Homo sapiens: one gene and its partners. The protein of the gene in region 3 interacts with the protein of the main gene of each other region in a pairwise test. Each region holds a gene or a part of one and is shown on either strand. Other genes may lie near its edges.

Evidence for each region.
Region 1: the proteins of VPS9D1 (region 3) and DYDC1 interact in binary tests that used the Homo sapiens proteins (3 or more experiments, as listed by UniProt).
Region 2: the proteins of VPS9D1 (region 3) and AAMDC interact in binary tests that used the Homo sapiens proteins (3 or more experiments, as listed by UniProt).
Region 4: the proteins of VPS9D1 (region 3) and CCDC172 interact in binary tests that used the Homo sapiens proteins (3 or more experiments, as listed by UniProt).

What each region holds. Positions count from the first base shown.
Region 1 is NC_000010.11:80,339,465-80,346,779, forward strand, and holds part of DYDC1 (DPY30 domain-containing protein 1), read right to left. Parts: intron 5,352-7,315; coding exon of another isoform or gene 5,319-5,351; exon of another isoform or gene 5,281-5,318; intron 2,898-5,280; coding exon 2,805-2,897; intron 1-2,804. Other genes in the region: DYDC2 (DPY30 domain-containing protein 2), read left to right, coding at 5,319-5,351. UniProt on the Homo sapiens protein: Functions as part of axonemal radial spoke complexes that play an important part in the motility of sperm and cilia. Plays a crucial role during acrosome biogenesis.
Region 2 is NC_000011.10:77,824,144-77,831,458, forward strand, and holds part of AAMDC (mth938 domain-containing protein), read left to right. Parts: intron 1-7,315. UniProt on the Homo sapiens protein: May play a role in preadipocyte differentiation and adipogenesis.
Region 3 is NC_000016.10:89,717,662-89,725,851, forward strand, and holds the start of VPS9D1 (VPS9 domain-containing protein 1), read right to left. Parts: upstream 3,238-8,190; 5' UTR 3,201-3,237; coding exon 3,102-3,200; intron 2,922-3,101; exon of another isoform or gene 2,707-2,921; intron 1,723-2,706; exon of another isoform or gene 1,544-1,722; intron 1,442-1,543; coding exon 1,366-1,441; intron 862-1,365; exon of another isoform or gene 858-861; coding exon of another isoform or gene 785-857; intron 505-784; exon of another isoform or gene 1-504. Other genes in the region: ZNF276 (zinc finger protein 276), read left to right, coding at 3,980-4,184, 4,870-5,173, 5,476-5,522, 5,599-6,048.
Region 4 is NC_000010.11:116,319,371-116,327,555, forward strand, and holds the start of CCDC172 (coiled-coil domain-containing protein 172), read left to right. Parts: upstream 1-5,077; 5' UTR 5,078-5,243; intron 5,244-5,275; exon of another isoform or gene 5,276-5,379; intron 5,380-5,576; 5' UTR 5,577-5,641; coding exon 5,642-5,720; intron 5,721-5,932; coding exon 5,933-6,018; intron 6,019-7,787; exon of another isoform or gene 7,788-7,805; intron 7,806-8,185.

The DNA of each region.
Region 1 (7,315 bases), on a different chromosome or scaffold from region 3:
ATAATAGAACCTTAGAACAAGAGATTTTTAAGGAGAAAACCACACTTAAGTAGAGTTTTGCACATACCGAGAAAGAAGTAAACACTTCTACAGGAACTAATCTGGCCCAATGCACAAGTCCTCCCACAGGACCTGAGCAATGCCCTCTTTAATACTCTGAGCACTGCAGTAGGAATATACTGCCCAATAAGGGAGGCCTCTTTCTGAATGTGAAACATTCTTCTAGTCAGCCAAACCTTGCTATGCCATCTACCTTTTCATTCTAAAGCAGCAGGGTGGCCTAACTGACCCTGAGCTGATTCGTTTTGGCTGCTAGAAGACCAGTGATTTCTTGATCATACATATGGTCACCCTAATGATAGGGACATAAACAGCACTGTTTTCCCAAGACCACTCCATTTTCCTGGTAACTTCTTATCCAGCATCCACAAGGCTATATGGGGAACATCCATATTCTTATAGGACTATGCTCCCCTGCCACAGAGATGGATATTTGACACAAACTAAGCCAGTCAGAATCCTTCTCCAAGATTCTTTTCTTAACTGAAACTAAAACAAGGCATCCATTCCTCTTAGATGGTAGAAGCCACAACATTCTAAGCCTCAGAAGCCGTTAAGGCCCATGTTCCCTACCCATGTGCAGCAAAGCAGCCCATAGTGAAAGAGCGAAACTAATAACCAGGGAGCAGCAGAGGGGAGAGCCCTGGTAGCATCTGATTCTCTTGCTCCCAAAGTCTGAAAGGCCCAGTGATACCAGAGTCCTTCACAGTTTATGTGTTAAACCCTTCCTTCAACCCAGAATCCTTCTAGCAAACTTCCCTTTGCACATGATAGTTTACATTGCGAGTCTGCAGCCATAAGAAGGCCAAGGGAAAGCACATGAGTGGACTCATCTCTGAGCAATGGGCGAGGGAGTGGTACTTTGCAGGGGACTACCTATGCTATGGTGAGGGATGATAAGCCTATAGAAATAGGAATTACTAAAGTTATTCTGGCAGTGGTCACACAAGCTGATGATGTCTGGAGATAGTAAAATAACATGAGTGTGGCTCTCTGGAGCCATAAAATAGAGACCAATCCTTCCTATGGACTTTGAAGCACTTTAATGTAGCTATCAGGTCACTTTGATTAAAAATACTTTAAATTCCTTTATTTTGATCACTGCCTTCTTGATATGTTCCTGTATTTTCTCTTTCAGTTTAGATCCGTGAATCTTTTTCAAAATTTCTTTAATTTTTAATTTTTACTGATATAAATAGCTGTACATATTTACGATGTACATGTGATATTTTGATACAAGCATACAATATGTAATGATCAAATCAGGATATTTGAGATATCCATCACCTTAAACATTATTTCTTTGTGAATCTTAAAGAGAAAGGGGCTGCTTGTGTATGTGTGCATACAGGCATATCCCTGTGCTCACACTACACTCAGACTAAGACCGCATCAGCATCTGTATTTTTTAAAACTATGTATAGGGCTTTTATCCTTTTAAAAAAAATCTCACTTTTTGATTTAATTCACCATTCACACTTTTTAAATATTGCTTTAATAAATGATTCTCTCATCTAAGCATCAATAAACATAATGAACATTGTCTATAAAACCTGCTTCTTTTTTCAGCTTTAATTATGGAATAAAAAGGGGGAGAAACATTTGATTAAGAGATAGTAGCTATAAACTCAGTCATCTAGAATATTGGTCTATATGACTCATAGCTTTTGGATGCAGGAAATATGGGTCAAACTAGAGACCTGACATGATTGTATCATGTCAGCTTGGACAACATGGCAAAACCCCATCTCTACTAAAAATACAAAAAATTAGCCAAGCATGGTTGTGCGTGCCTGTAATCCCAGCTACTCGGGAGGCTGAGGCTCGAGAATTGCTTGAACCCGGGAGGTGGAGGTTGCAGTGAGCCGAGATCACGCCACTGCACTCCAGCCTGGGTGACAGAGTGAGACTCTGTCTCAAAAAAAAAAAAAAAAAAAAAAGAAAGAAAGAAAAAAGTTACTGCATAGTTTATTTTAATGAAAGTCCATGTATGAACATATTTTAAAATGTAAATTCTTGTTGTTAATACATTAACATAAAGACATATACTACTGCCTCCGAGATTGGAATACCCTCAATATTCAACATCAGCTACTGTAACTAGGAACAGCTAACTCCTGACTAAAATGTTGAGGGTATCACTATTAGAGAACCCTACTGCTCACAGAGAAGTTTCACAAACATGATTGTATTTGATTGTATAAGAATCCAGTGAGACGGCCAGGGGCGCTGGCTCATGCCTGTAATCCCAGCACTTTGGGAGGCCAAGGTGGGTGGATCACCTGAGGTCAGGAGTTCGAGACCAACCTGACCAACATGGAGAAACCCTGTCTCTACCAAAAATACAAAATCAGCCGGGCGTGGTGGTGCGTGCCTGTAATTCCAGCTACTCGGGAGGCTGAGGCAGGAGAATCACTTGAACCTGGGAGGCCGAGGTTGCAGTGAACCGAGATTGTGCCATTGCACTTCAGCCTGGGCAACAAGAATGAGACTCCGTCTCAAAAAAAAAAAAAAAAAAAGGAACCAGTGAGACATTGCTAATAGTATTATACTGCTAGCTCTAGTTTTGAAACAGGTAAACTGAGACTGAAAAAGGTTATGAGACTTGTTTAGCTTACACAGCTAGTATGTGGCATGTCTTCAGACTACAAATCCCATGGTCCTTCTGCTAACAGCTGAAATAAACAGTTTGAAGATTCTAGAGAGTTTTAAATAAAACTGACATTTATAAAACTTCAAATTACCTTGCCTAATTGTTCTTGAGCTCTCTGTAGTTCTTGTATTCTCTGCCTCTCCTTTTCTTGCATTTCCAACTCTAGCTGCAATGCCAGCTGTTGCTGAATATTCAGAAATATGTCATATTACAGTTAGATTAATTGCAAGATAATTAAGTTTATACCCACCTTCATTTCAGAAACTTACAATACATGGTCACATCCAACTAATACTTTAGTTTCTACAAATGCTTCCTGAAGCATAAAATTTTTAAAAAAGATTTTAATCTTCCTTAATTGCAAATTATAGAAAGCACAATTTGTACAAAATTATTTTCCCTTTTCTTCTTAAAGTAACAAATGAGATTGCAACAATTTTCCAGATAAATTTCTTTAAGCATAGATGGGTCTTCAAATAGCCACACACTGGTTGTGGAAGAGTGGGTGAGAAACTCTTCAGAATATCATCTGATGGCTCATGCCTGTAATCCCAGCACTTTGAGAAGCCAAGGTAGGCAGATCATCTGAGGTCAGGAGTTTGAGACCAGACTGGCCAACATGGTGAAACCCTGTCTCTACTAAAAATACAAAAATTAGCTGGGCAGGGTGGCACATGCCTGTAATCTCAGCTACTCGGGAGGCTGAGGCAGGAGAATCGCTTGAACCTGGGAGGTGGAGGTTGCAGTGAGCCGAGATTGTGCCATTGCATTCCAGCCTAGGCAACAGAGTAAGACTCCCTCTCAAAAAAAAAAAAAAAAAAGAAAAGAAGAAAAAAGAATATCATCTGAAATCATTACTAACCAACAATATATTTGCTCCCAACTCAGCATATCTGTCACACTAGAATAGGGTTCAGCAATAAAGCCTGTGGGCCAAAGCCAACCCACCTCCTGTTTTTTATAGCTTACAAAGAAAGAATGGCTTTTACATTTTTAAATAGAAAAAATTTAAAAGAAATAATATTTCATGACATAGGAAAACGGTATGAAATGTAAATTTCAGCATCCTTAAAGCTTTATTGAAACACAGCCATGCTAATTTGTTTACGTATTGTCTACGAGCGCTTTTGTGCTGCCATAGCAGAGTGTAGTAGTTATAACAGAGACCACATGTGGTGCACTCACCACTTTGCCTGGCTGCCCAGCACACTACAAACCGCAGTAACATCATTGTAACAGCAGTGTTTGGAGTGCCATGGTATCACTATACTGTGACATTTAAAAAAATTATATCCATTATGTCAAAACAAGAAAGCCAGGGATGGGTGGCTTATTCCTGTAATCCCAGCTACTCAGGAGCGAGGCAGGAGGATTACTTGAAGCCAGGAGTTCAAGACCAGCCTGGGCAGCATAGCGAGACCCCCATCTCTAAACAAAATTTTGAGAAAAAAAAAAGAAAAATAGTGAATTTTGAATGTCGCACTTTTAAGGCACACTAGAGTGTGTATTATTTTGTCATCAAATTAAATGGCAAAACATGTTTCTTGCTATACAGTGCCACTGTACCAAAAGAATATAATAAATATCAACATTACCAGACTAAGCACTCATCACAATAGTCCCAGCTCACAGAGCACAAAGGCCAAAAAAAATTAGAAAATGTAAAACAGAATTGGCTGGGCATGGTGGCTCACACCTGTAATACCAGCACTTGGAAGGCCTGAGGACAGGAGTTCAAGACCAGCCTGGCCAACATGGTGAAACCCTGTCTCTACTAAAAATACCAAAAAAAATTACGCGTGGTAGCAGGTGCCTGTAGTCTCAGCCACTTGGGAGGCTGAGGCAAGAGAATTGCTTGAATCTGGGAGGTAGAGGTTGCAGTGAGCTGAGATCGCACCACTGCACTCCAGCCTGGGTGACAGAGCGAGACTCTGTCTTAAAAAAATAAAAATAACAAAAACAGAATTATCACAGCAGAATTTATTTACAAAAATTAAAAATGAAAATAAGTCTGCAACAAAAGTAGGGTTCCAAGAGGCTCATTTGTTATGAAAGCAAGGAAAGATATTTACCAATGATGAGTGAATTAAAACATGTTTTATTTCAGTGGCCAAAAAAAATGTGTCCAGGAAAAAACAAACTTGTCTAAGATTTTAGCCTTTTGGTGAGAGCAGCTGCTCAGAGTTGACACTGGGAGCAACATCAGTAGTCAACTAATAACAAGGCACATGATTCTGAGTGGCTTTCCTTGGCTCCTGATAAGCAGACAGATGTTCCCAACACTGCTCAGTTGTTGTTTATGGAAAGGGTCAATGCTGAGTTTGAAGTGACTGAAAAACCAAACCTCTATGAATAGTCTTTGATATGGTTTGGCTATGTCCCCATTCAATTCTCAACTTGAATTGTATCTCCCAGAATTCCCAAGTGTTGTGGGAGGGACCCAGAAGGAGTTAACTGAATCATGGGAGCTGGTCTTCCCTGTGCTATTCTCACGATAGTGAATAAGTCTCACGAGATCTGATGGGTTTATCAGGGGTTTCCACTTTTGCTTCTTCCTCATTTTCTCTTGCTGCCACCATGTAAGAAGTGCCTTTCGCCTCCCACCATGATTCTGAGACCTCCCCAGCAATGTGGAACTGTAAGTCCAATTAAACCTCTTTTTCTTCCCAGTGTTGGGTATGTCTTTATCAGCTGCTTGAAAATGGACTAATACAGTCTTCATGGAACAATTACAGACAAGAGCATTTTCAAAGTCGTGTAGAAACACTGATTCAATACAACCTGCAGTGAAATCTGCTAAGATGTGTCATAGCTGACAGTGATAAAAATACATGTGGAATAGAAAAAGGCTGAGCTGAACAAATTTACAAAGCTCATGAGAAAATAGTGTTTAAAGCCGGGAAGTGTTCATCATATTACTCAACAGCAGCTACTCTGTGAAAGTATTTGAATCTATTATGTGTTATTGATCCAGCAGTGTCAACAGTGACCTTCATTCACTCTTGTAAACTGGACCATCAATTCTGTGAATTTTTGTCAGAAACAGAAGCTGAATATATCCTGATGTCCTACCACACAGCAGTTCCATGGCTTAACAGTTATATTATGAATTTTTGAGCTCAGGGTCAAGATTTAACTTTTTATTGTGTAAATTGAAGATGCATATAATGTTTTGATATATATAGTGAATGCTTACCACAGGTAAGCAATTTCAATATCCATCATCTTAGACAGTTACTTTTGTATGGTAAGAGCACCTAAAATCTACTCTCTTAAAAATTTTCCAGTACACAATACAATCTTATTGGCTATCATCCTCATGCTGTACTTTAGATCTCTACATTTATTCATACTACACAATTGCAATTTTGTACATTTTGACCTACATCTCCTCATTCTTCTTCCAGGCCTACCCCCACTCCACCTCTTGGTAACCACTGTTCTATTCTCTCTTTTTATGTATTCAACATTTTTTTTTTAAGATTTCTACATAGACAGCATGTGGTATTTTTCTTTTGATGTCTGGTTTATTTCACTTAACATCATGTCCTTCAGTTTCATCCATGTCATCACAAATGGCAGGACCTACTTCTTTCTTAAAGCTGAATAATATTCTTTTATATATACATATATGTGATACATATATGTGAGATATATATATACAAGATATACATGAGAAATACATCTTACGTTTTTTCAAGACAGGGTCTTGCTCTGTCACCCAGGTGGGAGTGCAGTGGCACTGCCTCAACCTCCAGGGCTCAATTAATCCTCCCACCTCAGCTTCCTGAGTAGCTGGGACCACAGGTGCATGCCATCATCATCATGCCTGGATAATTTATACATTTTTTCTAGAGATGAGGTCTCCCTATGTTGCCCAAGCTGGTCTCGAACTCTGGACCTCAAGTGATCCTCAGGCCTCGGCCTCCCAAAGTACTGGGATTACAGGTGTGAGCCACTGTGATCAGCTCACAATTTCTTTATCCAGTCATCCACTGACAGACATTTATGTTGTTTCCAAATCTTGGCTATTGTAAATAATGCTGCAATGGACATGGGAGTGCAAGTAGTCTCTATAAGGTGCTGGTTTCATTTCCTTTGAATATATACTGAGAAGAGGAATTACTGGGTCATATGGTAGCTTTTAATTTTTTGAAATACACCCATACCATTTTGCATAATGGCTGCGCCAATTTGTATTCCCATCAACAGTGTAGAAGAGTTCACTTTTCTCCACACCCTCACCAATGTGTGTCTCTTCCCTTTCTTTTTTTTTTTTTTTTTTTTTTTTTTTCTTTTTTGAGACGGAGTCTCACTCTGTCACCCAGGCTGGAGTGCAGTGGCGCGATCTCAGCTCACTGCAAGCTCTACCTCCTGGGTTCACACCATTCTCCTGTCTCAGCCTCCTGAGTAGCTGGGACTACAGGCGCCCGCCACCACGCCCGGCTAATTTTTTGTATTTTTAGTAGAGACGGGGTTTCACCATGTTAGCTAGGATGGTCTCAATCTCCTGACTTTGTGATCTGCCCGCCTCAGCCTCCCGAAGTGCTGGGATTACAGGTGTGAGCCACTGCCCCCGGCCATGTCTCTTCCCTTTCTGAT
Region 2 (7,315 bases), on a different chromosome or scaffold from region 3:
ATAAATGACACACACCCATAATGCTATCATCACTTCTTGCTTTCCTGGGCTAAGAGAAATTGTGGAATACAGAGCTTAACGACAATTTATGTAGTTATATAAGTGAGTTATATTTATCAGACTGGAATGTAAAGGTGCAAAAAAGAGTAGCTATTTTTAAAACCTGTATTTGATTTATTGCTACTGCCATGAAGAGGCCTTTAAATAAGCATTAAGTTACACTTGGTTCAACTTTGTTTATGAATAAGAAATTTCTTAAGATATTTCAAATTTCATGTCCTATTAGGGGGAAATATTTTGCTCAATTAGAATTAACGGCTAATTTATTAAAAATACCAAAAAGTCAAAAACAACACAAATATTCATCAACAGAAAAATATAAATTGTGATATACTACTCAGAGTAATACACACTGTTGATATACACTACAGCCTGGGTGAATCTTAAAAACATGTTGAGTAAAAGAAGGCAGACACAAAAGAGTTAGGTACTGTACAATTCCATCAATATGAAGGTCAAAACTAATCTGTGGCAATAGAAATCAAAGTAGTTGTTTCCTTTGAGCTTGGAAGGGTATTGACTAGAAAGGGGCACAAGGGGACTTTGTAGATAGTTTCTATATCTTGATTGGCAAGTTTATTTCTCAAAATTCATTGAACTCTATAAACACTGCATTCAACTAAATGCAATGCAATTATGCTTCAATTTTAGAAGTTAATGGTTTATTCCTATATAATCCCAATTAGCATTGGTACCAGTCTGCCTTTTATACAAATTTATACACATTTCTGTCTCCTTCATATGTTATCTTTGCATTTGTTACATAGTTTTTTTGTTGTTGTTGTTTTTCTTTTTGAGACAGAGTCTCACTCTATCACCCAGGCTAGAGTGCAGTGACGCGATCTCAGCTCACTGCATGCTCCGACTCCTGGTTTCACGCCATTCTATTGCCTCAGCCTCCCGAGTAGCTGGGGCTACAGGCGTCTGCCACCATGCCCGGCTAATTTTTTTTGTATTTTTGGTAGAGACGGGGTTTCACCATGTTAGCCAGGATGGTCTCGATCTCCTGACCTTGTGATCTGCTCACCTCAGCCTCCCAAAGTGCTGGGATTACAGGCATGAGCCACCAGGCCTGGCTGCTTTTTTTTTAATGGATATTATAAGCTCAGTAAATGTATATTGAGGCAAACTGAATTCCATTTTAGAGCCAATTTGGGGAATTCCTAATCAAGGATGAGCAAATTAGGTTTATCTAAAACTCACTTTAAAAAAGCTAAAACAAGCTGCGCACGGTGGTTCAAAAAAGCTGAAGGTATATGGACTTAATATTACATGTAGTGAAAAAGCTATTAAGTGTCAACAGAAATAGGAATCTCTACTCTTTGAGATAGTTTAATAAGAAGATGTATGAAAATAAAAGGAAGCCCTAATACAAACAAGATGTAAACCAACCATTTTCTGGATATTTGTCTTGATAACTGAATTCTGTGTTACAACAGAATTCTATTCATTGAAGAAGACACCTTTAGAAGTGTCTTACTACCCATTTTTTTTGTTTTTTTTTTTTTGAGTCAGTCTCACTCTGTCGCCCTGGCTGGAGTGCAGTGGCACGATCTAGGCTCACTGCAACCTCTGCCTCCTAAGTTCAAGTGATTCTCCTGCCTCAGCCTCCCAAGTAGCTGGGATTACAGGCAAGTGCCACTACATCCGGCTAATTTTTGTATTTTTTGTAGAGATGGGGTTTCACTACGTTGGCCAGGCTGGTCTCAAACTCCTGACCTCAGATGATCTGCTCACCTCGGCCTCCCAAAGTGCTGGGATTACAAGCGTGAGCCACCGTCTTACTACCCATCTTTTTTTGAGACTTATGCATGAGTCTATTCTCTGACAAGCCTGGCTAAGATTGGTTTCTCCGATGGAGTAAAGATTTTTACTGAAAAGAAAAATGAGCGGGTAGCCAGAAGCAGTGGCTCATGCCTATAATCTCAGCACTCTGAGAGGCCGAGGTGGGAGTTCAAGACCAGCCTGGTCAACATGGTGAAACTTCGTCTCTACTAAAAATGCAAAAATTAGGTGGGCATGGTGGTGCATGCCTGTAGTCCCAGCTACTCGGGAGGCTGAGGCAGGAGAATCACTTGAACCCAGGAGGCAGAGGTTGCAGTGAGCCAAGATCACACCATTGCACTCTGGCCTGGGTGACAGAGTGAGACATCATCTCAAAAAAAAAAAGATGGGGGACAGCCTGTATTATTATGTTTTATGTCTTTTAGCTATGTGTCTGTGTTTTAAATTTTTATTATTAAATAATTCAGAACAGGGATAATCATCGGCAGTTTGACATCCTATACAGCAAGGCCTGATATTCACTTGTATGAACCAGAAAGGCTGTACTGACTGTTAAACTGTTAAGATACTGTATTTACATGCCAGTTGCAGCATAGTCGCTACCCTGAGCCTCCCAAGTACACTCCTGCTACACTGGCTAGCCAGTCTGTCTCCAACAACACCCAGCAACCGAACCTTTGAAACAGACACACCAGACCCTATAACTGTATGCCTGCAAATCAGATAATCTCAATGAAATGAACACATTTCTAGAATAACATGAACTATGGAAACTCACTCAAGAACAACTAGAAAATCTGAATGAACCCATAATAAGTAAAAATACTGAATTGGAGCTGGGTGCAATGGCTCATGCCTGTAATCCCAGCACTTTGAGAGGCCGAGGTGGGCAGAACACCTGAGGTCAGAAGTTCGAGACCAGCCTGGCCAACATAGTGAAACACCATCTCTACTAAAAATACAAAAATTAGCCGGGTGTGGTGGCACACACCCGTCGTCCCTGCTACGCAGGAGGCTGAGGCAGGAGAATCACTTGAACCCAGGAGGCAGAGGTTGCAGTGAGCTGAGATGGGGCCACTGCACTTCAGCCTGGGTGACAGAGCGAAACTCGTCTCAAAAAAAAAAAAAATCGAATTGGGAATTTGAAATTTGCCCCTGGCCCCGCCCCCCTCAGAAAAGAAAAAAAGCTCAGATTCAGATGGCTTCATGGTCAGTTCTACCAAAAGTTGAAATAGGAATCAATACCAATGCTTCACAAATTCATACCAAAAACTAGAAGAGAGGGAACACTTCCCAACTTATTCTGTGAGGACAGATTTTCCTTAGTAGCAAGATAGAGAAAAATATCACAAGGAAAGCCCAATACCTCATGTGAATCTAGCAAACACAGCAATCCTCAATTAAATACTAGCAAACCAGTTCCAACCACATATAAAAAGGATTATACACCATAAACAAGTGGGATTCATCCCAACTATGCAATATTGGCTTAAAATCTAAAAATCAATATATTGTAATATATTTACAGAATAAAAGAAACAACATAGTCATCTCAATAGATGCAGAAAACTCATTTGACAAAATTCAATATTCTTTCATGTTAAAAATAATAAACTAGGAAGAGAAGGGAACTTTTTCAGCCTGATTAAGAGCATTATGAAAAACCCATGCCTAATATATGGAATGCTGAAAACTAATTCCTCCCTCCTAAGGTCAGGAACAAGACAAGGATGTTTGCTATATCCACTTACATTTAATATTATACTGGAGGTTGTAGCCAGTGCAATGTGTCAAGAAAAAAATAAAAGGCATCCAGATTGGCATGGAAGAAGTAAAACAAGCTCTATCTTAAATTACTGATCTTGTATGTAGGAAATCCTAAAGAATCCACAAATAAAGCTATTAGAACAAATAGGCAAGCACATTTGCAGGATACAAGATAAATACTCAAAAATCCTGTGTTATTCTGTACATTAGCAATGAACAATCCAAAAATGAAATCAGACCAGGCACAGTGGCTCCTGCCTGTAATCCCAGCACTTTGGGAGGCGAGGTAGGTGGATCACTTGAGGCCAGGAGTTCAATACCAGCCTGGCCAACATGGTGAAACTCCATCTCTACTAAAAAATACAAAAAACTAGCTGGGCATGGTGATGCGCACCTGTAATCCCAGCTACTAGGGAGGCTGAGGCAGGAGAATCACTTGAACTTGGGAGGCAGAGGTTGCAGTGAGCCAAAATTGCACCACTGCACTCCAGCCTGGGTGACAGAGCGCAACTCTGTCTCAAAAAAACAAAATACACAAACAGCAAAAAAATGATATCAATAACTCCATTTACAATAGAATCAGAAAATATTTAGAGATTTCTTAAAAAGAAATACAAGAATGAAAATTATAGCCGGGTGCGGTGGCTCACACCTGTAATCCCAGTACTTTGGGAGGCCGAGGCAGATGGATCACAAGGTCAGGAGATCGAGACCATCCTGGCTAACATGGTGAAACCCCATCTCTACTAAAAATACAAAAACAAAATTAGCCGGGTGGGGTAGTGGGCGCCTGTAGTCCCAGCTACTCGGGAGGCTGCGGCGGAAGAATGGCGTGAACCCGGGAGGTGGAGCTTGCAGTGAGCCAAGATCGCACCACTGCACTGCGCCTGGGCAACAGAGTGAGACTCCATCTCGAAAAAAAAAAAAAAAAGAAAGAAAATTATAAAACATTGTTCAAGGAAATTTTAAAAGACGTACATGGGAAGAAAACACATATTCATGGATTGGAAGATTTAATATTGATAAGATGCCAATACCTTTAAGTTGAAGTACAGATTCCACAGATTCACTCTCCATCAAAATTCCAGCTGGCTTCTTTGCAGAAATTGACAAGTTGATCCTAATACTAATATGGAAATTCAGAGAACCCAGAATATCCAAAACAGTTTTTCAGATGATGAACAAAGTTGAAGGACTCACACTTCCTGGCTTCCAAAGTTACTACACAGCTACGGTAATCAAGATTGTGTGTAGTAATGGCATATGACAGACTGTGTCTCCCCCAGATTCATATGTTGAAGCCCTAACCCCTAATGTGACTGTATTTAGAGATAATGCCTATAGGAAGGAGTTAACTAAAGTTAAACAATGTCATGAGGGTGGGGCCCTAATGTGATAGAACTGGTAATTTTATAAGAACAGAAATAGAGAGAGAGCTCTTTCTCTTCACATGCATATGCCAAGGAGAGGCCATGTGAAGACACAGAGAGATGGCAGACATCTCCAACCCAAGGAGAAAGCCCTCACGAGATACCAGTCAGGCCAGCACCTTATCTTGGATATGCCAGCTCCAGAACTGTGAAAAATAAATTTTTGTTGTTTAAGTTACCAATTTATGGTATTTTTTATAGTAGTCAGGCTGAATAACAAATAGCCATTTGGGTCAATGGAACAGAATGGAGACTCACATATAAACCTATACATCTAGAGTAAATTGATTTAAAATAAACATACCAAGACCATCTAATGGGGAAAGAATAGTTTTTGCAACAAATGATGCTGAGAAAACTGGAGATCCACATAGAAAAGAATGAAGTTGAACCCCTAATTCATTCCATATAAATAATTCAGAATGTTTCAGACGACTACATTTGTGAGACCTGAAACTAAAACTCTTAGAAGAAAACAAGGGTAAATCTTTAAGACCTTGGATATGGCAATGGATTCTTAGAAATAACACCAAATCCACAAGCAACAAAAGGAAAAATAAATTAATAGACCTCATCAAAATTAAAAACTTGTGTGCTTTACAAAAACATGTATCAAAAAGTCAAGACCATCAGTTCAAATGTGGGGCTTAAGAAAGAAAATCAAGTCTGGGCACAGTTGTTCATGCTTGTAATCCCAGCACTTTTGGAGACCAAGGCCGGAGGATCACTTGAGGCCAGGAATTTGAGACCATCCTGGGAAACATAGTGAGACCCCATCTCTACAAAATTCTTTTTTATAGCCAGACATGGTGATGCACACCTGTAGTCCTAGCTGCTCAGGAGCCTGAGGTGGGAAAATCACTTGAGCCCAGGATTTTGAGGCTGTGGTAAGCTGATTGTGCCATTGCACTCCAGCTTAGGCAACAGAGCAAGACCCTGTACCTAAAAGAAGAAAAGAAAAGAAAGTCAAAAGACAACCTACAAAATAGGAAAAAATACATCCAGTAAGAGATTCATCTAGAATATGTTAAAAACATGTTGGGAGCTCAAAAGGCCAAAGGGATCATGACCAACTAAGCATTCCGCTGGAGGCTATATGATCAAACAGCAAACTGTTTATCATGAATGCAGAATGTGGGCAAACTGATACTGCCCTGCCACCAAAAGGTTTGCTGAGGGCCTCACTCCCTGGCAGTGGGCTCCTTAAAGTTATCTATTGAGAAATCTAGCGCCTATTGTTTGAAGAATGCAGTCTTACAAACCTGCCGTGAATCAAACTGCTGACGACACCCACCCCCCACCCACCTCCACTTCTTGCTATCTCTTTTGCCTAATAAATATGGAGGGCTGTGTAAAGCTCAGGGCCCTTGTCCACTAGAGGCAAGGTGCCCCCGACCCCTTCTTCCAAATATACTCTTTTGTCTCTTGTCTTTTATTCCCGCGTTTGCCCCCCTTTATTCAGTCCCATAGGTCCGTGTGGGTTACACAGTGGCACCCCAAACAGCAACAGGATTGGGTGCTCTACAAAAACACATGTCAATAATAAAAAAGACAAATAATTGGCATTTCACCAAAGAAAATATACAAATAGCCAACAAGCAAATGAAAAGATACTCAACATCATTGATCATCAAGAAATAAATAATGAAAACCACAATGAAATAGCACTTTATGGTTGGGCACAGTGGCTCATACCTGTAATCCCATCACTTTGGGAGACTGAGGTGGGAGAATTGCTTGAGTCCAGGAGTTTGAGACCATTCTGGGAAACATGGCGAGACCCTGTCTCTACAAAATATACCAAAAAAAAAAAAAAAAAAAAAAATAGCCAGACATGGTGGCATGCACCTGTAGTCCCAGCTACTTGAGAAGCTGAGATGGGAGAATTCGTCGAGGCTTCAGTGAGCTGTAATCATGTCACAGCATTCCAGTCTGGACAACAAAGCAAGACCCTGTCTCAGAAAAAAGAAAGAAGGAAAAAAATACCACTTCACACCCACAATGATGGTTTGAAATTGGTGTTGACAAGGATATGGAGAAAGCAGAACCCTCATCACTGCTAGTGGAATTGCAAAGTTGTGGATCTGCTATGTAACAGTCTGATAGCTCCTCAAAATGATAAACATAAAGTTACTTGAACCAGCAGTTCCTTTCCTAGCTATACCCAAGAAAAATGAGCATATGTCCATGAAAAAATTTTTACATAAATGTTCATAACAAGCATTGTTTCTAATGTCAAAAATTGGAGACAACCCAATGGCCATTAGCTGTTT
Region 3 (8,190 bases):
CCCACCTTGCCAGACACGGTGGGCCACTGGAGTTCCTCTGTCTTCTGGGACTTTGCTCTCCCCAGGGGATCCTCTGCCACTCCTCCACCCAACTCCTCAATCTTGGAGCGCCAGAGCTCAGCCGAGCTCACCGGCTCCCTAGGGAGCTGGGGCAACTGTTAGCTCCCCCTGACCTGTGTGATCCTACGTCCAGTGGCTGCCCCGACCTCTGTGATCCCACGTCCAGGGGCTCCCCCGACCTCTGTGATCCCACGTCCAGTGGCTCCCCCGACCTCTGTGCTCCCACGTCCAGTGGCTCCCCCGACCTCTGTGCTCCCACGTCCAGTGGCTCCCCCGACCTCTGTGCTCCCACGTCCAGTGGGTCCCCCTGACCTCTGTGATCCCACGTCCAGTGGCTCCCCCTGACCTCTGTGCTCTATGTCCAGTGGCTCCCCCTGACCTCTGTGATCCTTTGTGCAGCGGCTGCTGGCCTCTCAAACTTAATGTGTTCATTGCGGAACTTGCTATTCCTCTCCTTGCCAGTTTGCTCCTGCCCCATCTGCCTCCTGCAAGTCTGCTCTGTTCCACCTTCAGGACGCACCCCGAGGCCGTTTACTGCTCCCATCCTGGGTGGTCTGGCCACTGCCATCCTCAGTCCTCACCTGAGGCTCCACTCCCAGGCTGTCCTCTCCCTCAAAGCTCAAAGTCTCTTCAAGTTTCCCTGCACACCAGAACGGCCCCAGTTCCACCCAAGGCATGCACACAGCCCCACCCCGCCCACTCCTATTTCAGGGCCTTTGCACACCCCACAGCTGGAATGCTGCCCCACGTCTGTGCCGCTCACTGGAGCCAGTGTCTTGCCACACCCCAGTCTCCATCTTCTTATCCACAACGCTGGTCCCTTCCTGCCACTATATCACACTGAGTGTGGGCTGGTCCACCTACTACAAATGGTCAGGCTAGAAGGATACAAGAGACCCCCGCCGAAGCCTGGCACCCATCAAGGGCTAGGATGCCCACAATTTGTCCAGCATGGAGGAAGCAGCAGGGCTCAGCCATGCCTTTTTCTTTTTCTTTTCTTTTTTTTTTTTTTGAGACGGAGTTTCGCTCTTGTTCCAGGCTGGAGTACAATGGGGTGATCTCGGCTCACTGCAACCTCTGCTCCCGGGTTCAAGCAATTCTCCTGCCTCAGCCTCCCGAGTAGCTGGGACTACAGACACCCGCCACCAGGCCCAGCTGATTTTTTAGATTTTTAGTAGAGACGGGGTTTCACCATGTTAGCCAGGATGGTTTCGATCTCCTGACCTCAGGTGATAGCCCGCCTCTGCCTCCCACAGTGCTGGGATTACAGGCGTGAGCCACCGCGCCCGGCTGGCTGAGCCGTACCTTTAGTGGTTTCCACTTCTTCTAGTAACACCTGGGAGATATAGTGGATGCTCCTCAGGTATTCCGTGTATGCCTCCTGTGTCCAGGAAAGAGAAAGAGTGGGGTCAGGCCAGTGGAGGGAAGTGACTCCATTATTCCGGCCAGGTGCCCTTGTGGGATAAGCAAGGAACACCACCACCTGCTTATCTCTGAGATACACCCAGAGACATTGAGCCTGCGGTGGTTAGCTGCAGCCGGAACACGGTTTTCTGCGCAGGGCACAGGCAGCATCGCTGCTCTCCAGACTTGGAAAAGACATCAGGACCTGAGAGAGAGAGAGAGCCAGGGACGAGCTGGACCTCATTTTCTCCTCTGACTGCCTTTCTCTCCAGCACAGGAACTGATATTCTCATTCAGTGGGCCTGGGGAAGTGACCTCAGCAGTTTGCTGTCATTTTTCATTCTATGCAATGTTTCCTTCTTGTGCAACTCAAGGGTGATTCATTCAGTGGCTTAAAAAAATACTTTTCTGAGAGGATAAAGGGAGTGATACTGGAAGTTTTCAAATCACTTCCCGGTTTAAGTTCCGAGAAATCCCTTTCCCAGAACCTGCGAGTTACGTATTTCCAGTGCACACAGGAGCCTAGAACTGTTACCTTTCAAGGCTGTGTGACCCCTCTGACAAGGCACAGGTCATTGGAACCACAGAATGGTGGTTTGTTTTGTTTTGTTGAGACAGAGTCTCACTCTGTCGCCCAGGCTGGAGTGCAGTGGCAGGATCTCGAGTCACTGCAACCTCCGCCTCCTGGGTTCAAGTGATTCTCATCCCTCAGCCTCCCAAGGAGCTAGGATTACAGGTGTGCACCGCCACACCCAGCTAATTTTTGTATTTTTAGTAGAGACGGGGTTTCACCACGTTGGCCAGGCTGGTCTCAAACTCCTCACCTCAGGTGATCCACCGCCTGGGCCTCCCAAAGTGTCAGGATTACAGGCGTGAACCACAGCGCCCAGCAATATGCTATGTTTTTTTGTTTTATCCCTAGCTGTTAAGTTTCCTATCTTTAAGTCTATGCCTCAGAGAGAAAGACGAAATATAATCCAGGCAGGATTTCTGACTTGCGGGGGCACCTGCTGCCCTAAAAACCAACTTGGGGAAAGCAGCAGATTCAGGAACGAGGCTTCTCCTAGGCACAGGCAGGCTCCTTCCCTCCTTGGGCAGCCGGGTGTGGCTGGGCCAGCTTCTCTACCTGGTCGCCAACCTTAGATTCGGCCCCATCTCAGGAACGGGCCACACCCCTCCGGCCTGCTTTTCCTTCCTAAGACGACTGCAAACAGCATCACAAATGAGCAGGTATGTGGCCTTCTCTGCATGCCGTCCCCTGTGGCAACCGGATTAAATCTACCATCTCTGCCCAGAAAAATGCACGAACGCACGGACCTGCCCGTCACTCGGATTTTGGAAGGTGGCCTGGCGGACCCTCCTGCTACATCTCCTCTACAGGTGGAGCCCAGGCTGTGATGCACCGGCTCAGCGAGCGGAGTGGAAAGCCAAGGTCCGCAGGATCTGAGCTGTCCAAGGTCACTGCACGCCCGGCTGCGCCCCGCCCCCGTCCTCGCCCGGGAACCGCGGCCCGGGATCCCGGCTGGCGCCCGCTCCCAAGTCTCCAGCCCGAGCCGGCCCCGTCCTCGCCCTCCCCGGGCGGGGGTCCCTCCAGGGGCCACCCTCAGCGGCCAAGCCCCGCCCCCGCCCCGCCTCACCCGGGGCCGGTTGCCGGTGTCCAGCTCGATGGCCCCGTTGGCAAGCTTCATGGCGCTCTGCAGCGGCTTCACCGTGCCGTCCCCGGCCGCAGCGGCCATGGCGCCGAGCGGGGGAGGCGGCGGCGGTAGCCGAGGGGCTGGACGGGCGACCGGAGGCCCGGAACGCAGCCGGCGCTGGTGCTGGAGCCGCCCGAGCAGCGGACCGCAGGAAGGGACGCGGCCGCACTTCCGGCGACGGGCCCCCTCCGCGCGTACTGCGGGCCCCACGGGTGTTAGTGGCGGGGGCGGCAGAGTCCGGGTGGGTTGTCGCGACGGAGCCGGGCCTCTTCGCCGTCTTGAGACGGGGCTGGCGAGAAGGGCCCCTCACGGAGTTGCCATGGGCGTCTAACCGCGGCAGCCAGGCCCCTCTCTACGTGAGACCCCGGCCCCCCTCCCCTTTCTGCAGCCCGCCCGCCACCTGCGCGCCGCGTGGCCTCCGCCGGCGCCTGCCCGCCCCGCGCCTCCGTCTCCCACGGTAAGAGGCGGTGAGGGCCGCGTCGCCTCTCCCTGGAGGACTCGTCGTGAGGTGTCGGCGAGCCCCTCCGCCCACCGCCCCGCCCCAGGCCAGCGCTCCATTGGCGACAGAGGCGGGCACGGCCGCCCTCGGGCCCGAGAGGGGAGCGGTACGAGCGGGGGCGCTGGCACCGCGGGTGGAACCTCGGCCGGCGGGGTCCCGCCCCTGGCCCCTGGCCCGCCCCGCCCGCCTCGCTTTGCTTCTCGCTCCGCCCCTCCCCCGCCCCGCCTCGCTTCCAGCGCGCCGAGCGGAGCCTAACGCCGGGTCCTCTAGGAACCTCGGGCCGGGCAGCACCCGCGGGATTCTGCTGGCGTCCTCCGCTGCCATGAAGCGGGACCGGCTGGGCCGCTTCCTGTCTCCTGGGTCGTCCCGACAGTGCGGGGCCTCGGACGGCGGCGGCGGCGTCAGCCGGACTCGGGGCCGCCCTTCCCTTAGCGGTGGGCCGAGGGTGGACGGGGCGACGGCGCGGCGCGCCTGGGGCCCGGTGGGGTCCTGCGGGGACGCGGGCGAGGACGGCGCGGACGAGGCAGGTGGGTCCGCGGCCCGGGCGTGGCGGGTTGGGGTCGCGGCAGGGGTTGCTCGTGGGAGGAGCCGCACTGACGCCCGGAAGCCGGCGCGGCCTCTCCTCCACCCGGCCAAGGGCGTAGCGGACTCGGGGCTGCGTCGGGATAGGCGCTGGGCGGCCGGCTCGGTTTTCCTCGCGCTCCGTGACGCCGGCGTCGCCGGCCCGGCCTCCCCGGCCGCGGGCTCGGCCAGAAGGGACCCGGCGTGAGGAGCGCTGTCACCGCGGGCAGGTCGCCCTGGGGTGCCCGCGCGTGGGAATCGCCCTCCCCTGCTTCGTGCCCTCGCGGAGCCGGAAAGGAGGCGGCACCTGCAATTGGCAGACAGGAAACCGCGGCGTTTCCTGGAGGGCGCAGCGCCTGCCCCGGGTCTCGCGGTCGCTGGGAGGAGGGTGCAGTTCCAGGTTTCACTCTTGAAGTTGCTTCGCTGGAGAGGCCTTAGAGGCCTTTGAAATTTGAAAGATTTCTTGGACCAGCGGCCACATCCCCCACAGGGCGGCTTGTCCCGCCGAGAGCCGCGCGCCCGAGCCGCTTGCTGTGTCCGGGAGCCGCGCGAAGGGCGCTGCAGGCGCTGCCCTCGGACCTGGAGTCCGGGACGCCCTGTGCTCAGGAGCCTCCTTTGCCAGCTGCTAACACTTCCTGCCGCTCTGTGCAGGAGCAGGCCGGGCTCTCGCCATGGGTCACTGTCGCCTCTGCCACGGGAAGTTTTCCTCGAGAAGCCTGCGCAGCATCTCCGAGAGGGCGCCTGGAGCGAGCATGGAGAGGCCATCCGCAGAGGAGCGCGTGCTCGTACGGGACTTCCAGCGCCTGCTTGGTGTGGCTGTCCGCCAGGACCCCACCTTGTCTCCGTTTGTCTGCAAGAGCTGCCACGCCCAGTTCTACCAGTGCCACAGCCTTCTCAAGTCCTTCCTGCAGAGGGTCAACGCCTCCCCGGCTGGTCGCCGGAAGCCTTGTGCAAAGTACGCCCTAGTCTGTTCAGAGCACGTTCAGGCTGTCAGTACTGCAGTGTGACGGGTGTTGAGAGAGGGACAGGGCGTGCCTCCGCGGGAGCCTCTGGGTGGGGGGAATGGGCCATGCCCGGGTTCAGTGCCAACAGCCCTGGGACTGTTGTGGAGAGATGAACTGGGAGGAGCTGGGGTGAGGGAAGAGAAAGTTGCCTATGGGGACCGCTGAGGTTTGAGATCTCGAGAGGGTCCCGTACGACGAGCGCTGTGAACCTCCGCCTGCTTGTCCTGCTCATGGCCACACTGATCCTTTGCAGGGTCGGTGCCCAGCCCCCAACAGGGGCAGAGGAGGGAGCGTGTCTGGGTGAGTCCTCCCCCGGTGGAGGGTGGGCTGGGTGCCGACCAGCCGTGGATCTGACATCTCTGTTGACTCTCTGCAGTGGATCTGATCACATCCAGCCCCCAGTGCCTGCACGGCTTGGTGGGGTGGGTGCATGGACATGCGGCCAGCTGCGGGGCCCTGCCCCACCTTCAGAGGACACTGTCCTCCGAGTACTGCGGCGTCATCCAGGTCGTGTGGGGCTGCGACCAGGGCCACGACTACACCATGGATACCAGCTCCAGCTGCAAGGCCTTCTTGCTGGACAGTGCGCTGGCAGTCAAGTGGCCATGGGACAAAGAGACGGCGCCACGGCTGCCCCAGCACCGAGGGTGGAACCCTGGGGATGCCCCTCAGACCTCCCAGGGTAGAGGGACAGGGACCCCAGTTGGGGCTGAGACCAAGACCCTGCCCAGCACGGATGTGGCCCAGCCTCCTTCGGACAGCGACGCGGTGGGGCCCAGGTCGGGCTTCCCACCTCAGCCAAGCCTGCCCCTTTGCAGGGCCCCAGGTAGGAGGCACCTCTTGCTGGTGCTAGACCAGGATGTGTGCTCCTCAGTGGGGCAGGGTTTTCAGCAGAAAGTGAATGTCTCCACTGCTCTAGGTGGTGGCTGGGGTGTGGTGTGAGAAGGAGCAGAGCTTGGGGCTTCTGCCTGCGGCTGCTCACCACATCCAGAGAGCAGGGAGGGGCGGCCAGCCTGTCTCCGCCTCTTGCTCCTCTGTGAGCAGGGCTCTGTTCCAGCAGTTTCTGTGGAGACACGCTCATCAGCCGTCGAGTCTTTTTCTAAGCCTGTGCTTGGGGCTGAGGGGACTGAGGAAGAGGGAAGAATAGGGCCTTGTCTGTGGATGTGGGAGAAAAGAATGGCCGTTGCCTCTGCGGCTGCTGCCCTGGGCCAGCTGCAGGTCATTTCCTGGCACTCAGCCAGCCGCCTGGTGACACCCTGGTGTGGGCCAGTGTGGCGCAGCTTTCTCTGCTGACAGGCTGAGGGGAAACACAAGGCCCTTGTTTGGGCCCCAGAACCCATAGCACTGTGGGCTGGTGCAGCTGCTCCTGGATGTTGTTTTAGGAGGGCCAGGGCCAGTTTCCCTCCGGCCTCTTGTCCTGTGTGTGCTCTGTGCACCTGTCCCCACCTGAGCACTCAGTTCCCACTTTGAGTCTTGAGGGGAGCTTCCGAAAAGCGTAGCTACCTGTAATCCCAGCACTTTGGGAGGCTGAGGTGGGTGGATCACTTGAGGTCACGAGATCAAGACCAACCTGGCCAACATAGCGAAACCCCATCGCTAATAAAAATACAAAAACTAGCCAGGTATGGTGGTGGGCATCTGTAATCCCAGCTACTCTGGAGGCTGAGGCACGAGAATCACTTCAGCCTGGGAGGCGGAAGTTGCAGTGAGCCGACATCGCACAACCGTACTCCAGCCTGGGTGACAGAGCAAGACTCTGTCCCAAACAGAAACACAGCTACCCAGATAGTTTAGCTAGATACGGGTGCACAGATGAGACAGTGCGGCTCGGGGGCCTCAGGTAGGAACGGGATTGTGAGTGTCACATCTTAGAGCTGCTTGGCTCTGTAAACTTGTATGCAGTGTGTTGAGAACAATTCTATCTATCTGTGTATCTATCTACCTACCTACCTATCTATCTTCCTACTTCTTTGTCTCTCTCTATCTACCTACCTATCTGTATATCTATGTATCTACTTATCTACCTATTTATCTATTTATTTACCTACTTATCTATCTATCTATGTGTTTATTTATTTTTGAGACAGAGTCTCGTTTTGTAGCCCAGGCTGGAGTGCGGTGGTGCCATCTTGGCTCACCGCTACCTCAGCCTCCCGAGTAGCTGGGATGACAGGCACATGCCACCACGCCCACCTAATTTTTGTATTTTTAGTAGAGATGGGGTTTCACCATGTGGGCCAGGCTTGGTCTCGAACTCCTGACCTCGTGATCCACCTGCCTCAGCCTCCCGAGTAGCTGGGATGACGGGCACGTGCCACCACGCCCACCTAATTTTTGTATTTTTAGTAGAGATGGGGTTTCACCATGTTGGCCAGGCTTGGTCTCGAACTCCTGACCTCGTGATCCACCTGCCTCAGCCTCCCGAGTAGCTGGGATGATGGGCACGCGCCACTACGCCCACCTAATTTTTGTATTTTTAGTAGAGATGGGGTTTCACCATGTTGGCCAGGCTTGGTCTTGAACTCCTGACCTCGTGATCCACCTGCATCAGCCTCCCAGAATGCTGGGATTACAGGTGTGAACCACCGCGCCCAGCCAAGAACAATACTTTTTAAAACTTATTTTAGGCCAAGTGCAGTGGTTCACGCCTGTAATCCCAGCACTCTGGGATGCTGAGGTAGGCGGATCACGGGGTCAGGAGATCGAGACCATCCTGACTAACACGGTGAAACCCCATCTCTACTAAAAATACAAAAAATTAGCTGGATGTGGCTGTGGTTGCCTGTAGGCCCAGCTACTTGGGAGGCTGAGGCAGGAGAATCGCTTGACCCTGGGAGGCGGAGATTGCAGTGAGCTGAGATTCTACCACTACGCTCTGGCCTGACCGACAGAGCAAGATTCTGTCTAAAAAAGAAAAAAACAAAACAAAGAAAACTTATTTTAAGTAGAGACAGGGTCTCACTCTTTT
Region 4 (8,185 bases), on a different chromosome or scaffold from region 3:
CCCAAATGACCGTATTTGGAAATAGGGTCATTTTTAGATATAATTAATTAACATGAGGTCATGCTGGATTGGTGTAGGCCCTTTATCCAATATGACTGGGGTCCTTATAAAGAGCGGAGAAGAGGCCAGGCGTGGTGGCTCACGCCTGTAATCCCAGCACTTTGGGAGGCCGAGGCGGGCAGATCACGAGGTCAGGAGATCGAGACCATCCTGGCTAACATGGTGAAATCCCATCTCTACTAAAAATGCAAAAAATTAGCAGGGCGTGGTGGCGGGCGCCTGTAGTCCCAGCTACTCAGGAGGCTGAGGCAGGAGAATGGCGTGAACCCAGGAGGCAGAGTTTGCAGTGAGCTGAGATAATGCCACTGCACTCCAACCTGGGCGATAGAGCAAGACTCCATCTCAAAAAAAAAAAAAAAAAAGAGGAGAAGAGAGAAAGAGACAGAGACACACAGGGAGAATTCCAAATGACAACAGACGCTGAGATAGGAGTGACTGTCTATAAGCCAAAGAATGCTAGGGTTGACCAGTAAGCACCAGAAGCTGGGGAGAGGCAAGGAATAGATTCTCCTCAAGAGCACCCACAGGGAACAAACTGAGCTGACACCTTGATTTTAGACTTTCACTCTCCAGAGCTGTGAGAGAATAAATTTCTGTTCTAAAACACTCAGTTGTGGTACTTTGTTATAGCAGCCTCAGGAAACAAATATAAATATTAGGAAACAAATATAATATTTTGCATATAAATTGCATTTTTAGCTTTATGTATTAAATATATGGTTGGTGGAATAAGCATTTATAACAAGACATAACCCAGTTTCAATTATTTTTCCTTAAATCACATCTTATTTTAATTCATTACAAATACACTGCATTACTAATCCAAATTGTAGAAGTCTGAAATTTCTTTAGAAAAAATATTAATTTGCTGGTAATAAGCATTTTTTTGAAAATGTCTCTACCTTGAAACAAAACACAGCTACTTAAATAGTCTTATTTTCTCCTGCCTCTAGTTTTTAGAGGCAGTAAAGGGAAGTGGTTAAGACCTTTGCCTTAAGAGACCATCAGGATTCAAGTTCTGATTCTGCTGCTTCCTAGCTACTGTATGGGACCTTAGACAAGTTACTTGGCTATGGTGTCTCAGTCTCCGAAATAATAAAAGCATTAATCTCTTATGGTTGTTGGGTCAATTAAAAGAATTAATACATGTCAAAGTCTCAGATGGTTATTGTCTCATAGCAAGGGCTATAGCCTGAATGTTTGTGTCACCCCCACATCAAATTCATATGCTGAAATCCTAACTCTTAAGGTGATGGTATTCGGGGGTGAGGCTTTTGGAAGGTGATTAGGTTGTGAGGGCAGGGACCTCATGATTAGGATTGGTGTCCTTATAAAAGAGACAGCAAAATGCTAGCTAGCTCCTCCCACCATGTGAAGACACAGTAAGACCCTTTCTATGGACAAGGAAATGGGCCCTCACCAGACACTGAATTCGCTGGCACCTTGATCTTGGACTTCATAGACCCCCAGAACTATGAATAATACATTTCCATTGTCTTTAAGCTAGCTAGTTTATGGCATTTTGTTATAGAACCCTGAATGGACTTTGCCAGTGAGCTATTCAACACATGCTACATATTAGTCTCTCTTTTTTAAATTTTTTAAATTATACTTTAAGTTCTGGGATACATGTGCAGAATGTGCAGGTTTGTTACATAGGTATATACGTGCCATGGTGGTTTGCTGCACCCACTGACCCATTAGTCTCTTTCTTTTTACTACTTGTAACTTCCTGCCATGAATAGACTGCATAAAACAACTCTGACCCATGACTTACCCGATCACAAACATTATGTAGTCCTCCAACACATATATAAACATGTTAAACATCATCCAACTGTTGACCCCATCCAACATTCTGCTATTTTTCTCCATTACTTTATATTTGTTGAAGTACCACCCTCCTTTAAAACCCAGCTCATATTTTATATCCTACTGATAGTCTTCGTAGATCACCCACGTATGACTTCTTCTCACTCCCTCTCCTATATTCCCATAGCACAAGGGTGAAGCTCTTAAACACAGCATGCCTTGGAGTTATTTGTGCATACTATGTCCCATTTGGTAGACTATCACCTCCAGGAGAGTAGGGTCTGTACCTTTTCAACTTTGTATCCCCTATAGTACCCAGCAGAGAATTTTACACTTAGTAGAGCCTCAATAAATGGTTGTTAAACTTGGTTGAACCCACATATTTTTTTTTCTTTGTGGCAGATGCCCTAAGACAAAACATAAAATAAATGAATTACTTTTCTTATTTCCATTGCAATATATATGCCCTGGGCTAGTGGGTATTTGCAAGCCTGGTTTAGAACTTAGGGAAGTCATCAATCTAGGAAAGGAGAGGAAATACATTTTAAATCACAAAAGCAATATAGCCTTATATAAGGCCTTCTTAGCAAAGCAATTATCAATGGCTCAATAACCCAGGTGCTAGTGTTATTATGAACAAAAGTCTGAGGCTGAGAGACAATGAGTGATCTTAACTTTTATATTCCATAGGTATGCAACTCAATGGAACATGTACAGATGGAAGGTTTAGATCTGAGAATCATATCTGTGTATTACAATGCAAATAACTGACCATCCTTCTAAAGAACATCTGTTGAAACATCTGAAAGCAGTTGTTTATACGGCTGCCAAAATGCTAAAAAATATAATAATTCTCCAGTGAGGTTAGAAATATCCAGGGGAAGAAAAATACTTTTTTATGTAGTTCTGCTTTATTAAATCTTGTTGTTTTTTCTCTAATATGGCACATAGGAGATGCTCAATAATATCTGTTGAATGAATAGCAGAAACTCATTAAACAGTTGTTGAATGAATCATCTCTGTTTTTTTAGACTTATAAGGCACATTTTCAGAAAACTGTATGCCCAAGTTTTACCACATTGTATACCATTTTTATTTGGCATAAATTTAAGTACTGCTGCTCTTGCCCTGAACATTATAAGATGTAATGAGCACGGATATCTATAAGAAAAACTATCTTTTAACACTACAGAAAATGTATAAATAAACCTAGATATACAATAGCAGTATTTTTAATTATCTTAATATGTCACTTTTATTATTATGGGACACTTAAACTTTGAGTTGTGAGCTCATATGAATCATATTCGCTTCAAAAAACAAAATAAAATTTAAAATTCCTGCTAACGTGTATAGTTATGATACCTCTTAGAAGATTGTAACTTTGGATTTAAAAGCACCAAAATATTCTGGTATGTGAAGAAGAAGACTGCAGAAGATGAAGAAGCCATTTCTCCCCATACCCCCTTTCTTGAATTTCCAGCAGCTCTTTCTTCCATACTCCTGTGTAAGTGAGGCAACTGCACTCCCCAAAGACTGCCCAAATTTTACTCTGCCAGGTTTCAGCACAGAAAGAGCATGTTAAATAATACATGTGAATTTGAGTGTAACTAATAAAATTGGAACGTTAAATAGCAGCATGTTTTTGAAAACCAGCCTCCTTGTGATGACGTTCCTTGTGCAAGTCCATGGGAAATAATTCTGAAGGGAGTGTTATTAATTAGTAATGTAATTTATCTTCTGGAAGCCCTTTCCTTTGATGGCCGCTGTGGTACAGTTTATAAGCCTCCAAACAAGTGCTCAAAGAAAACTGTTCAAACCACAATTTCAGCTTTGTTTTCACCCTTGAACAGATAAGAGTAAAACTTATTTTGGTATATCTAAATTTTACACATGCCTCTTTATGGTGGAGGATTATGAAGTTATAAATATATATTTATGAAGAGTTTTTAATGAAATGGTAAAATGTCTGGGATGTAATAAGAGGATAAAATAGTAGACTCCAAAATTAAATTCATGGCTTCTGATTCCAGATTTCTTGGTTTCAGTTCTCACCACCCTATATGAGGTACGCAACTATGGCAATATACTTAATTGTTCCGTGCCTCAGTTTCCTCAACTACGCTATGAAGGTGATAGCAAAAATTATCTCAAAAGGATATAGGGTGTTCAAAATAGTGCCTGGCAAATAATAACAAATTATTATTATTACTGATTCACAATAATTTCAAATTTATAAAGGAAAAATGAAGAGTGAGGAGGGTTACCTTGAAGGGAATTGGTAAAATGTTAATATGTACTTCTAAATGACATGATTATGGGCAGTTCTTTTCTGCTTTGTATACTTTTCAGTATTTATTCTTTTAAAATAAACTCAAAGAATTAAGTTTTATGCATCAATGGCTTGATGGAAATTAAGGCGGAAATTTGGAATAGGTTAAAATGTATAACTGATTAGACTGCAGCATTAATGAAATATTAATTAAGCCTATTGTGATGTGACAGAATTAACATTTACCTTATTTTACTTAATTTTAAGTACATTCTGACAAATTACTTTTTAAAGTTCAACCAATGTCAATTTTACATTCATAAAGTCAAATGTTTATTTTACTTAATTTTAAATACATTCTAACAACAAATTACTTTTTAAAGTTCAACCAATGCCAATTTTACATTCAGAAATAAAGTCAAATGTTTATTATAATGTCAATATTTCAACCTACTAAAACTAAAAATATTTTAATTTTTGATTTAAAAAATCCCACGCAGAAGTCCCAAAGGTGCCTTTCATGTTTAAGCTTTAATTAGCAACCACTTTGGTCTCTGACACATATTGCGCAGATATTGAAGTGTTAATATTACTGCAGCTTGATTACAAAAGGCAATGATTAATTTTAAAGCAGACAAAAAAGATATGCCCTGATTACAAAGGAATGATTAAGGCGGAATGTCAGACATTGCACATTTATAGCAGTCTTTGCCATCGTCAAAGTATAAGACTTTGTAAAAGTTTATATTTAGAATCACAGTTACTTTGTACTTTATAATATTCAGTGTTTGCGCCTTGGATACCGGGCAACCCTACTCCAACTGGGCCTAAGACCTTTGGGGTTCACATGCCCAGGGCAAACCTGCCCCCCACAGGATGGTCCCAATGAGCCGCCGTAGTTTAAGTTCTCACAGGCAAGGCCCGACCTGAAGCACTGGCTCCAGCCTTAGGGAAGGTTTTGGCCGTGGGTTTTGTTGGCACGTACCATTTTGCTGAAAGACAGAGCACCTTGAGGACGTTATCCCTAAAATGAGAGAGGACTGGGATTGAAAGGCTGACTACAGAAATGGCTGCTGCCCAGACGCCCTCAAAAGCCAAGGTCTTGGCAGCCTTTTTATTTGCCACCAAAGCGAAAAACAAACCCAGGGAGGGACGGAGGCCTGAGTCAGGGGTTCCGCCAGGGAAAAAGGCAGACCTTGAAACTGCCCTCTTAGGGCGTGAGGGAGAAAAGCCCGGTTTGTAAACTGTAACGGGAAACAAAGGCTGAGGGCAGGAAGGGGCAGCAGCGGCCAGCGTCCCTAGACCCTCAGACCCCTCAGACACCGTCTGGCGTCGGGCTCCATCTTCTTGCTGGGCTGGCGACAGAGGGTTGGAGACAGGTCTATCTGGGAATGGTTCTAGAAGAATCCATCTTCTTTATTCTGCTTTCCAGGATCCTCAGAGTTGGTTATAAAATATTTAAGGGCGAGAAAAGGATCGCAGGAGCCAGGCCCTGAGATGAGCTTGGAGTCCCTGTTTCAGCACATCATCTTCACCGAGCATCAGGCGGAGGAGAGTCGCCGTTTGATGCGAGAAGGTCGGGGTATTTCTGTCCTTTGCATGGGGCCTTTTGTCTTCTGATGCTGGGTGCTTGGAGCAGAAGGAAATCCCGAAGGCAGTGGTCAGAGCCGTTAGGGGAGCTTGCATGCCATGCTGAGGGAAAGACAACTGAAAGGTGGCTTATCAAACGCCACCAAAATGGGGACTTTAGAAAGATTGATGTGTTTAAAGATTTAATTTTTATTACAGTAAGGTCGGAAATAACCAGATGTCGTGAAAAAATTAAGAAAGCAACGGAGGAGCTGAATGAAGAGAAAATCAAGCTGGAATCTAAGGTATTGAAATGTAAAGCATACTAATTATCACTTGAAAAAGCCTGCCTTAACTTGACTTTTGGGGGATATTTCAGTGTTTAACCAGTTGTCCTTCAAGTAGGAAGCACGTTACTCTGTGCTGGCTGTTTTAGTTCCATGTTGCCTGGTGATGTTTAAAGTTCTGAATCCCGTGACACCTTCAATTCCAAGACGAATTTGCCCTAAATAAACTAAGGTAATGAAGAATTCATTGTCCATTTTGTGGGATGGTTAAGGTTTTAAAAGAGCACAATGTCATTAGAAGAATCATTATTCCACTTATTTAATAAGTAGTTGGTGCAGTATATACATTTTGAATGATAAATAATTTGTGTGCTATGTTGATATAACAATTGCATGTAAATTTCAAACAAGCCCCTGCCTTTAGTTTTAAAAGTCTCTACCACATTTTAGACATGCCTTGCGTCCGAAGTATACCTTTTCCATTAGCGTTTCTCTCTTTCCTGCAGCGTTTGTAATGTTCTGTTATTTTAAAAAGAAGCAAGAGAGTCTGATGGCTTCTTGAAGGATGGATAGAATTTTGAAGAGGCAAATAGAAGGAAGTAGTAGGAGGAAAGCGTTCCAGACAGAAGGAGGAGGCAGATATGTGCAGTGCATATTGGGAAAGGAATCTAGTCAAAGCAAAGGGCTGATATCTGGGAATAGCAGAAAACCGTTGCAAGTTCCTGATCAGGGAGCAGTAAAAGTGGGTTTAGGTAGCCTAGTATGGTGGCACATGCTTGTAGTTCCAGTTACTCAGGAGGCTAAGGTGAGAAGACAGTTGTTCAGTTTAATGCCAGCCTGGGCAACATAGTGAGACCCTGTCTTTAAAAATAAAAGGTAGTTTTAGGAGGATCTTTCTGAGCTCTGATTGGGAAGATGGGAATAGACTATTAGGAAGCTAAGAATATTATTTAAGTGTGCCACAATGAAGGCCTCGCTATGGGTGGGGACAGAGAGTTATTCAAAAATATTTATTAAGTACCCAGTGATGAACTAAACAAGCACTGTGTAATATGAAGTCTGTTTGAGGAAGTCTGTCTGCTTCAAATATAACTATTTTAACTTACCACTTTGAGGAATTTTCAGTTTTCTTTGGGAATGAAACAATCAGAGAACACTTCTCCATCTGGCGAATTTCAGCTTTTCTTTCCAGGTGTTGCTCAAACATCACCAATAAAGCCTTCTTTATTTATACAATATTTATTATTTATACAATAAAGACATCTTGGTAAAATTTTAAAATTAAACAATGATACATACTTGTATTTGTGTTTGTATCCCCCACTATTTTGTGAGCTGCGTATCTGGAATTTTTTTCCTTATCCATCTTTTATTCTCACTGCCTGTTATCTAACAGTATATAGTATACAGTAGTGTGTTGAAAGAATTGAGTACTAATAGTTTGATAGATAATAGGGAGAGTCTTTTAAAATAGAATTTGTAACGGTTATTCAGTGAGATCCTTCCTCCTGTTTTGCCTGTGAATAGTAGGTAAACTAGCTGCTACCAGCAATGCTGAAAGCTGGTGGTATGGGCAAAACATTAAGAATGTTATGATGCAACTTTCTTTCTCTTGAAAAGGAATTAAGACACTTTCAGGATTGATATCTAGAAGCTAATAGAAGTAATGGGCAAAATATGAGCACTTACTGTATGCAGGGGCACTGTTCTAAATGCTTCTCCTGTATTAACTCCTTTAATCCTAACAGGAATCTTGTGATGAGACCCCATCATTATCCCCTTTTTATGAGTGAGGAAACTGAGAGGTAAATGACTTGTCCACGATATATAATTCAGAAACAATTAAACTACCATAATGAAAGTAACAATTGAGTAATAACAGCATATTTTATTAAAGCAGATTTCTTAAGCTCACTTTAAACATTTTTCGTCATGACATTCATGTATAATAATATAACTGAAGTTTTGTATCTTGTTTAGGTTAATATTTTTAAAAGGTTGCTTATACAAGTTTTTGTACAAAATGCATTTTTCCTGGATTGGTGAGGATATTGACCTGATATAATATATTTTTTAATGTTACTCTGTAATATTTTCTTTGTTAGCAAAGTTTTGTTTTGTCTGCAAATGGAAATGTAATTTGTTGATATATACACATACATTAAAAAATGTTGATTCAGTTGTT